2 separate regions of the Homo sapiens genome follow, and region 1 is linked to region 2. A link means that fine-mapping ties the variant in region 2 to the expression of a gene that starts in the linked region. Tissue or cell type: lymphoblastoid cells. Region 2 holds a variant in brackets; the other region holds the start of a gene. All regions are shown on one strand. Distances are from middle to middle.

Region 1 (4,213 bases), 860 kb before region 2:
AATTCGATTAACTCCACACGTGTTCTTAGTCTGATTTTGTCCCATTGCTTACACTGTATTTGATTTTAATATATTCTAGTACCTAATTTAAGCCTTGGAGTTGAAGAGAGAAAAAATTATAATGTGGACCAGATTTTACTGGGCGGTTGGCACTTATAATTTTACAGCGAACCTGCATAAAATAATAAGCAACAGTTATAAACTTGCCAAGAATCAATTTTGCATGTGGAGCTTCATTCAACCAACAATTCTATAAACACTCTAGTGCTAGAAAATCGGCAGGATAAAACTACAAATGTGATCTCTGTCATTTCCTTAATGAAGTAATTACTTTGATGCTAATGTGTTGGAGCTGGTTCCTTCCGGTGGGTTGGTGGTCTCGCTGACTTCAGGAATGAAGCTGCGGACCTTCACGGTGAGTGTTACAGCTCTTAGAGGTGGCGTGAACCCAAAGAGTGAGCAGCAGAAAAATTTACCGTGGAGAGCGAAAGAACAAAGCCCCCACAGCGCCAAAGGGGACCCAAGTGGGTTGCTGCTCCTGGCTGGGGGGCGGCCAGCTTTTATTAGCTTATTTGTCCAGGCCCATGTGCTGCTGATTGGTCCATTTTACAGAGTGCTGATTGGTCCGTTTTACAAACCTCTAGCTAGCCACAGAGTGCTGATTGGTGCATTTCTACAGAGCACTAATTGGTACATTTTACAAACCTCTAGCTAGATACAGAGCGCTGATTGGTGCATTTTACAATCCTCTTGTAAGACAGAAAAGTTCTCCAAGTCCCCACTGGACCCAGAAAGTCCAGCTGGCTTCACCTCTCACTACCTTTTCTCTTCAGAAGGCACCTTAACAGTGCACTTGGCAAGCTTCTTACCTCTGGCCAATATTGTTCATAAATATCAGAACCCTGGTGCCTTAGATGTCTGCAGATCTGGGCCAAATGGAAGCACAAATCTGTACTGAGCACTTACTACATGCCAGGCCTATTCCATATGTTATCTTAATCTTTCCCATACCCCTGCAAGAAAGGTTTTAGAATCCTCTTCACCAGTAAGAACCAGACACCAGAGAGTCTGAGCCATCTGCTTCAGTCCTACCCAGCTCTTGAGGGGCAGGGCGGGGCTTCAAACCCAGAACATCAAGCTGTTTCCCAAAAATGCCTTCCCTGGTGGTATCTTCTCATCATCTCCCAGTCTTTTAACCCTGGCATATCTGTCCTGTCTAAGCAGCTTTCTACCCAGGGGCTCTATTTCCCAGGTTCCACTAGTCACAATCCTATCCCCTCTCCCAAATCTTTGTACACTTTCTTAGACCTTCCTTGCACCTCCCACCTCCACCTCCGTCAGGGTGACCTCTGCTTCCTGGGAATTTCCCCGCCCCAGGCTTGGCTCTTTCGTTCTTATCACTTTCTATGCTTTACCTTTTGTATCCTTAAGCAACCTACTTGAATTATCGATTTTCATTGGGAGGGAGAAAAGAGAGGACATTTATTGCGCACTCATTTGTCTGGGAATTTGTCTCCTTTAATCCCCCAAATAATCCGATGAGGAGTTTTTATCTGCCGCTTTACGGATGAGATTGGACACACACAGTAAGCTGAAGTAGTAGTCAGGAGGGAAAAGGACGAAGAATCACAAACCGTTCTCCCCCTCCAAGATGAGTGCATGGTGTGGGCGTCCAGGAAACGTTCCTGGAAGAAATTATTGGATGGATGGATGAATGAATGAATGAACGAACATTTAAAGGCTGGCTTACGAAAGGAGTTTAGTGAGAAATGACACAGAGAGGAGAGCTGAAATACTCCAAAAAATACAGATTTCAAGTACAGGTGGGGTTTGGAGGCTGCAGAAAGTCCCAAACATTCAAACAAGCCCAGAGTGAAAGACAGGGTTTCATTAACACTCGGGCAACTACTAGTGTGGCTCTGAAGAGTCTAAAGAGATCTACAACACTTGTGACCCGAACACAAAAGAGGCATATGCAATCTACAGTGCTCCCTCTGGAAAGCTCTAGAACACCGTCGCGTTTTGTTCCCAAACTTGGGCGGCGGGGTTGGGCAGGCGCCTGTCTCTTTAAGAATCTGGTCGAAGTCCTTTTCCTCGCCCCGCCCCGCCCCCGGTCCCCCCCCCTCCCCGCCCCCGGCCCCCCACCCCCCGGTGCCGGCGCGGCCTGGGGCCCACCCCCTTCTTTTCTGCGGCTGCACTGAAGGGTTCGGCTGCCCATCCGTCACAGAGGCGATGCCTCTGATTGGCTGCTGCTCTTCGGGCCGGGAGGCGGGGCGGGAAGGCCGGAGAAACTAGTTTGTTGGCGGCGCCTAGGCTGTATCGCAGCGAGAGCGTTTTTGCCTGTGGAGAGCCGGCCGACGGGAGCCGCGGCGGAGCCTGTTGAGCTCGCGCGGGCTGCCGGGAGTGGTCTCTGAGGCGGCGGCGGCGGCGGGGATCGTCTCCGGCAGTGAGTATCCAGGCCGGGCGGGGACGCCGTGCTCTGGCCGCAGCACCCGCGCCCCCGCTCCCTGCGCTGGGGACTCACCACCCCGGGCCGGGCCGGGACCAAGCGCTCGGAGCCCCCGCGGGACTACGTGTCCCGGGAGGGGGCCCCGCGGCTGGGGCCGGGGCCCTGGGACAATGGTGGGGAGCGGCGGCCGGCCGGCACCCCGCGGCTCCGCGAGGGAATTCGCCGAGAGCTCTGCGCGAGGGAATGAATTGTTTGGCAAATGGATGTTGCGCGCGGGAGCCGCTACTCTTTCCCCAGGGAGTGGTTGATTCATTGAGTCCGCAGACTCTTTTTTTTAAAAAATTACTATTGATCCTGGAAAGAGAGACTGCTTGTCTTTGAGGACGCGAGCGGCGATGCCCCGCGCCTTGGACGCCCAGGCCGGATGGCTGCCTGCCTGGCGCAGAGCGAGGGCCCGGGGTTCACAAGGGGAGGGTTTGCGCGGGCCTGGCCGCGGAGCCCCGAGCCGTTCACGTTCCGCCTGCCAGGGTCCCTCGTTTCGGTTTGCAGAACTGTCCAGCGGCAGAGAAAGGTCGCACTCAAAGGCACACCCACCTGTCCACCTGGGTGGCGGCCAGACTGGCAGGTCCAGAGCAAGCCCTCTAGCCTGACTCTAATTACCACACTTGCCCTGGCTCCGAGACACACCGCGCGATGTTACGCCCCCACTCCCCCTGTCTCTTTCGTAGTTGCTTTAGAAGCTTTTCTCTTGGGGGATTGTGCCCGGGAGATACCAGATACTTTTTTTGTGTTGCTGCTCTAAGCCCCCAAAGTGCATTCCCATTGTCTTTGAACAAAGAAACATCTCTCTAGAGGCCTGACCCAACGAACTGTGGGTGAGGGGGCGGACCCAGGCCCCTGCAGATTTAATCTGGACGCTCTTGGGTCCTGCTGGATCCCGGTGAATTTGACCTTGGGGAAGGCGGGCTGGACTTTGACTCTCCTCGGTAGTCAGGGCAGAGAATGCCAGGTGTCTGGACCATTTGGTTCCACTCTATCGGCCCAATAGAGAGAGGAAGGGAAGGAAGTTAGCAGTAGCACCAGGAGAGGAGGCAGGATTCCACGGTCTGTATCCTGGACCAGATTCCAGTGACCGTTATGGGGCCAAGCCCTCTGGGACCCTGGGTCCCAGTCTCCCCATTCATAGGAGGAACTGATGCTCAGTGTGCTGATCTGAGCTGTGAGGATTCCTGGCATGTTGGTGAAGGCTTGCGTGGGGGTCTGGGGAAGAGTAGGACACAAAGTCTACCCCACCTCAGGGTCCATTTGGTGTCCCAAGACCGGAGGCTCTTGGGTCCACAAGCTGTGCCTGTGAAGGTTGACGTAGTCAGTCTTTTTCCGGCCTGGCAGCTATTTCAGTTTTGAGTCATTTGTCAGGCAGTGACTCCAGGGTGGTTGATAAAAGGGAGGTAGAAATGGAAGACACCTTCATCCTGGGGTCTTGGGCTGCAGTTGGATTTATGTATGTGGTGCGGAGAGAAGAGCTATAGGCAAATTGCATGCTCCACATCGGAAGCAGGTTCTGCAGCCCGATGCCCCTTAATAGCGTTTTAAATCTGCGGGCACCCCGTGTGGGCAGAAGAGAGCAGGAAGAAAAGAGAACAATTACCCAGTGAAAGCAAGCTTGGTTCGTCCCGTCTATCACTTGGGCGGGGGCGGGGGGAAGGGTAGGATGAGTGAGAGTGTTATTTAGTGGGTGGTTTGTGACTGATTGATTGATTGATT
Region 2 (4,213 bases):
GGCCACACTCCCAAGCCTTGCCTGGTCCATTGTTTCCTGCTGGTCAGAGACTGGACATTAAGATGTGAGAACTGGAGTGCGCATTTTTGCAAATGCTATGGTCTGAATGTTTGTCCTTCGGAAACTCATTTTGAAACTTAATCCTCAATGTGGCAGTATTGACAGGTGGGGCCTTTAAGAGGTGATTGGGTCATGAGGGCTCTGCCCTCCTGAATGGATGAATCCATTCCTGAATGTTGGATTAATGGGATAATGGGTTATCATGGGAGTAGGACTGGTGGCTTTTTGTTTTGTTTTTGAGACGGAGTTTCGCTCTGTTGCCCAGGCTGGAGTACAGTGGTGCGATCTAGGCTTACTGCAACCTCCACCTCCCGGATTCAAGCAATTCTCGTGCCTCAGCCCCCTAAGTTGCTGGAATTACAGGCGTGAGCCTTTATGCCTGGCTAACTTTTGTATTTTAAATAGAGATGGGGTTTCACCATGTTGGCCAGGCTGGTCTTGAACTCCTGACCTTAAGTGATTTGCCTGCCTCAGCCTCCCAAAGTGCTGGGATTACAGGCATGAACCATCGCACCTGGACTTGACTGGTGGCTTCTTAAGAAGAAGAAGAGAGATCTGAGCTAGCATGCTCAGTTCCCTGCCTGGCACCCCTCAACCCCTCGCCATGTGATGCCCTGTGCCAACTTGGGACTCTGCAGAATCCCCAGCAGCAAGAAGGCTCTCGCCAGATACAACCCCTCGACCTTGGACTTCTCAGCCTCCATAACTGTAAGAAATAAATTCTTATTCTTTATAAAGTACCCAGTTTCAGGATTTCTGTTATAAGCAACAGAAAATGGACTAAGACAGCAAATGAAGCCCAAACCAGAGCAGGAAAAGTGGAGAGATGGGCCCAGGCTAGTGGAAGACAGTGATGGACAGAGAGAACGGGACCCTCTGCTTTGCTCCCCCCACCTTGTACCACTACCCTGTCTGCAGGACCTCCTGCTGTGCTCACCCATAGGTCAGTTTCACTCCTTCCTCCCTCCTAAACTTGGACTCCTCCACCTCCGGGTAGACCAGCTTGGAGAGGGCCAAGGCACAAGGGGCAGCCATCACAGAGGCTGCAATCAACGAGGTGGCATCGATCTGCAAGAGTGAGAGTGCAGGTTCTAGGTGGACAGTCAGAAGAAATGCTGGCGACCAAGGAGTGCGGCCCAGGGCAGCAAGGGCACATGTGTAGTCTGTCCCACTGATATGTCCTCATTGTCATAACTGCTGTCATCACTAATAATAATAATACCTTTTATGTGTAGAAGGTCACAGGCTATATGTATAGGACCTTCTATTTCTTCCTGGTGCTCCCTAAGTTAGGAATGACAAATATTGTTATCTTCATTTTACAGACAAGAAAACTGAGACTCCAAAGGATTAAATATGGCTTCCCAAAATAAAGGAAGAGAAGGAATTAGAGCCTATCACATCTTTTGGCTCCAAGTTCAAGGTTCTTTCTTCCTTTTTAGGCTGTCACTGTTGACCACTAATCCCCGTTAGCTGAGGTTTCCCCCTTAGTGGAGGAATTTGTAATGCTTTCAGACAAAGCTCTAGAACCTAAGAGTTGAAATGAAATGGATTTAAGAGCTAAACCAATTCCACCTTAGTGTAGGTATGTACTAGCGTAGGAAGGTACTCCCTCTCTAGGCTCTCTCTTTGAATGCTTACTGTGACGGGGAACTCACCACTGCAAGCCAACCCATCACATCCAGTCCTGCAGTTTGAGAACTCCTTCTCAGGAAATCTGCCTCTATGACAGCCACCGTTTGACCCTCAGTCTCCTTCTGGGAGCCACGCTGTGAAAACCACTCCCAGCAAGATGGCAGAGCAATGTCAGCCCCTGGGATTCTCCCTTCCTGAAGTTTTATCTTCACTGGGACCCCAAACCCTTTGCTTCTCTGTTCTTTTCCACAGAGAAATATGACACGTTTCCCCCTATCACTGTGTCATTTACCAAGCAGGGAAATCAGAACCAACTCAGACATCTAACAATGGGAGACCGGCTAAGCGTCGTCAGGCTGTCATTGAAAATGATGGTCATCAAGGCCTCACAGTGAAGTGGGAAAGGGCCCACAACATTGCAGGTAGAGAAGAACCAAAACTAGGGGCAGTGGGGAAACAAACTCCAAAATGGCGCATGAAAAGATTAGAAA[G/C]AAATACACCAAAATGGCAATGAATTGACTGTCCCTGGCTGCTGGGGCCAGGGGTGATTTTCTTTCTTGCTTTATTTTTTTTTCCAAGACAGAGTCTTGCTCTGTTGCCCAGGCTGGAGTGCAGCGGTACAATCTTGGCTCACTGTAACCTCCGCCTCCTGGGTTTAAGCAATTCTCCTCCCTCAGCCTCCAGAGTAGCTGGGGTTACAGGTGTGCACCACCACGCCCGGCTAATTTTTGTATTTTTAGTAGAGATGGCGTTTCACCGTGTTGGCCAGGCTAGTCTCGAACTCCTGACCTCGTGATCTGCCCACCTGGGCCTCCCAAAGTGCTGGGATTACAGGCATGAGCCACCATCCCCGGCCGATTTTCTTTTCTTTCTGCATTTTGGTATCTTTCTTTTCTTTCATTTTTTTTTTTTTTTTTTTTTTTTTTGAGATGGAGTCTCACTCTGTCGCCCAGTCTGGAGTGTAGTGGCGCCATCTTGGCTCACTGCAAACTCTACCTCCCAGGTTCACACCATTCTCCTGCCTCAGCCTCCCAAGTAGCTGGGACTACAGGCGCCCACCACCACGCCCAGCTAATTTTTTTTTTTTGTATTTTCAGTAAAGACGGGGTTTCACTGTGTTAGCCAGGATGGTCTCAATCTCCTGACCTTGTGATCTGCCTGCCTTGGCCTCCCAAAGTGCTGGGATTACAGGTGTTTTGGTATCTCTCAAAATGTCCACAACAATATTTTTTTTAATAAACAAAAAGCAAAATAGATGTTTCTTCTTAAAGTTTGTAATAAGCCAACTGCATTCTAAAGTGTTAAATAAAAATAAAAAGGAGGAGGGAGGTAAGTTGAAGACAGACACTCAGGCTGATAAAAGCAGAGGGCAGGCCAGGCACAGTGGCTCACGCCTGTAATCCCAGCATTTTGGGAGGCCAAGGCGGGCAGATCACTTGAGGTCAGGAGTTTGAGACCAGCCTAGCCAACATGGTGAAACCCCATCTCTACTAAGAATACAAAAATTAGGCCGGGCGTGGGGCTCACACCTGTTATCCTAGCACTTTGGGAGGCCGAGGTGGGAGGATCACAAGGTCAGGAGTTCGAGACCAGTCTGGCCAACTTAGTGAAACCCCCATCTCTAATAAAAATAGAGAAAAATTATCCGGGTGTGGTGGTGTGTGCCTGTAATCCCAGCTACTCGGGAGGCTGAGGCAGGAGAATCACTTAAACCCAGGAGGCGGAGGTTGCAATGAGCCGAGATCGCACTATTGCACTCCAGCCCAGGCAATAGTGCGAGACTCCATCTCAAAAAAAAACAAAAATTAGCCTGGTGTGGTGGTGGGTGCCTGTAATCCTAGCTATTTGGGAGGCTGAGGCACGAGAATGGGTAGAACCCAGGAGGCAGAGGTTGCAGTGAGCTGAGCACTCCAGCCCGGGCGACAGAGTGAGACTCCATCTCAAAAAAAAAAAAAAAAAAAAAGCAGAGGGCAGATCGTGGGCACCCCTCATTACCATCTCAGGGAAGTGCCAGGCCTGCTGCTGAGAAGCCAGGCTGGAGACCCTCTCAGGCTCTGAATCCCAGGTATTGTGTCCTTCTTCTTTTTCTAAACCCCAGTTGTTTCTTTTTAAAGATCGACAAAACTTCTTAAAATGTGAACAAGAATTGGCAGCAGCCTGATACCTCCCCAGGGCCCTGTGTGGACACTGGGTGTGCAAGCCTGGGCCCCTGCCCCTTGCTGGATGAAACCCACTTGGGGCAGGTGTCCTCTCTGGACTTTCTGGGCTGGGCTTTGGGACTTCCCCTGCTTCCTCCTCAGTTGCTCAGCCCCAGCTGGGATGGTGCCACACCTGGAATCTTGGGATTTTCCCTCCACCAGGCAGGACCCTGACCCTTCCTCTGACTTGTAGATTACATCTGGTTTGTAAACCTGAGTCACGGCAGAGAACACACCCTGCAGTTGTCACATTCCTGCACACTGTCCCCTGGGTGACCCAGTTGTGGTCACAGCCTCAAATGCTGCAGTTGCTAGTTTCC

What was found. PIP is the estimated chance that this variant, and not a neighbour inherited with it, causes the effect.
Region 1: KLHL25 starts here. The variant in region 2 is fine-mapped to the expression of KLHL25 in lymphoblastoid cells (GTEx, PIP 0.97).

What each region holds. Positions count from the first base shown.
Region 1 is chr15:85,792,999-85,797,211 of GRCh38, reverse strand. KLHL25 (kelch like family member 25) reads left to right here and starts at 2,287. Exons shown (of 3, transcript NM_022480.4): 1 at 2,287-2,446. RefSeq lists silencers at 2,097-2,166, 2,317-2,616.
Region 2 is chr15:84,930,060-84,934,272 of GRCh38, reverse strand. SLC28A1 (solute carrier family 28 member 1) reads right to left here. Exons shown (of 19, transcript NM_004213.5): 13 at 998-1,128. Among named protein-coding and RNA genes, the nearest start is that of SLC28A1, 48 kb to the right of the region's middle. The variant G/C (reference allele first, on the strand shown) is at 2,187.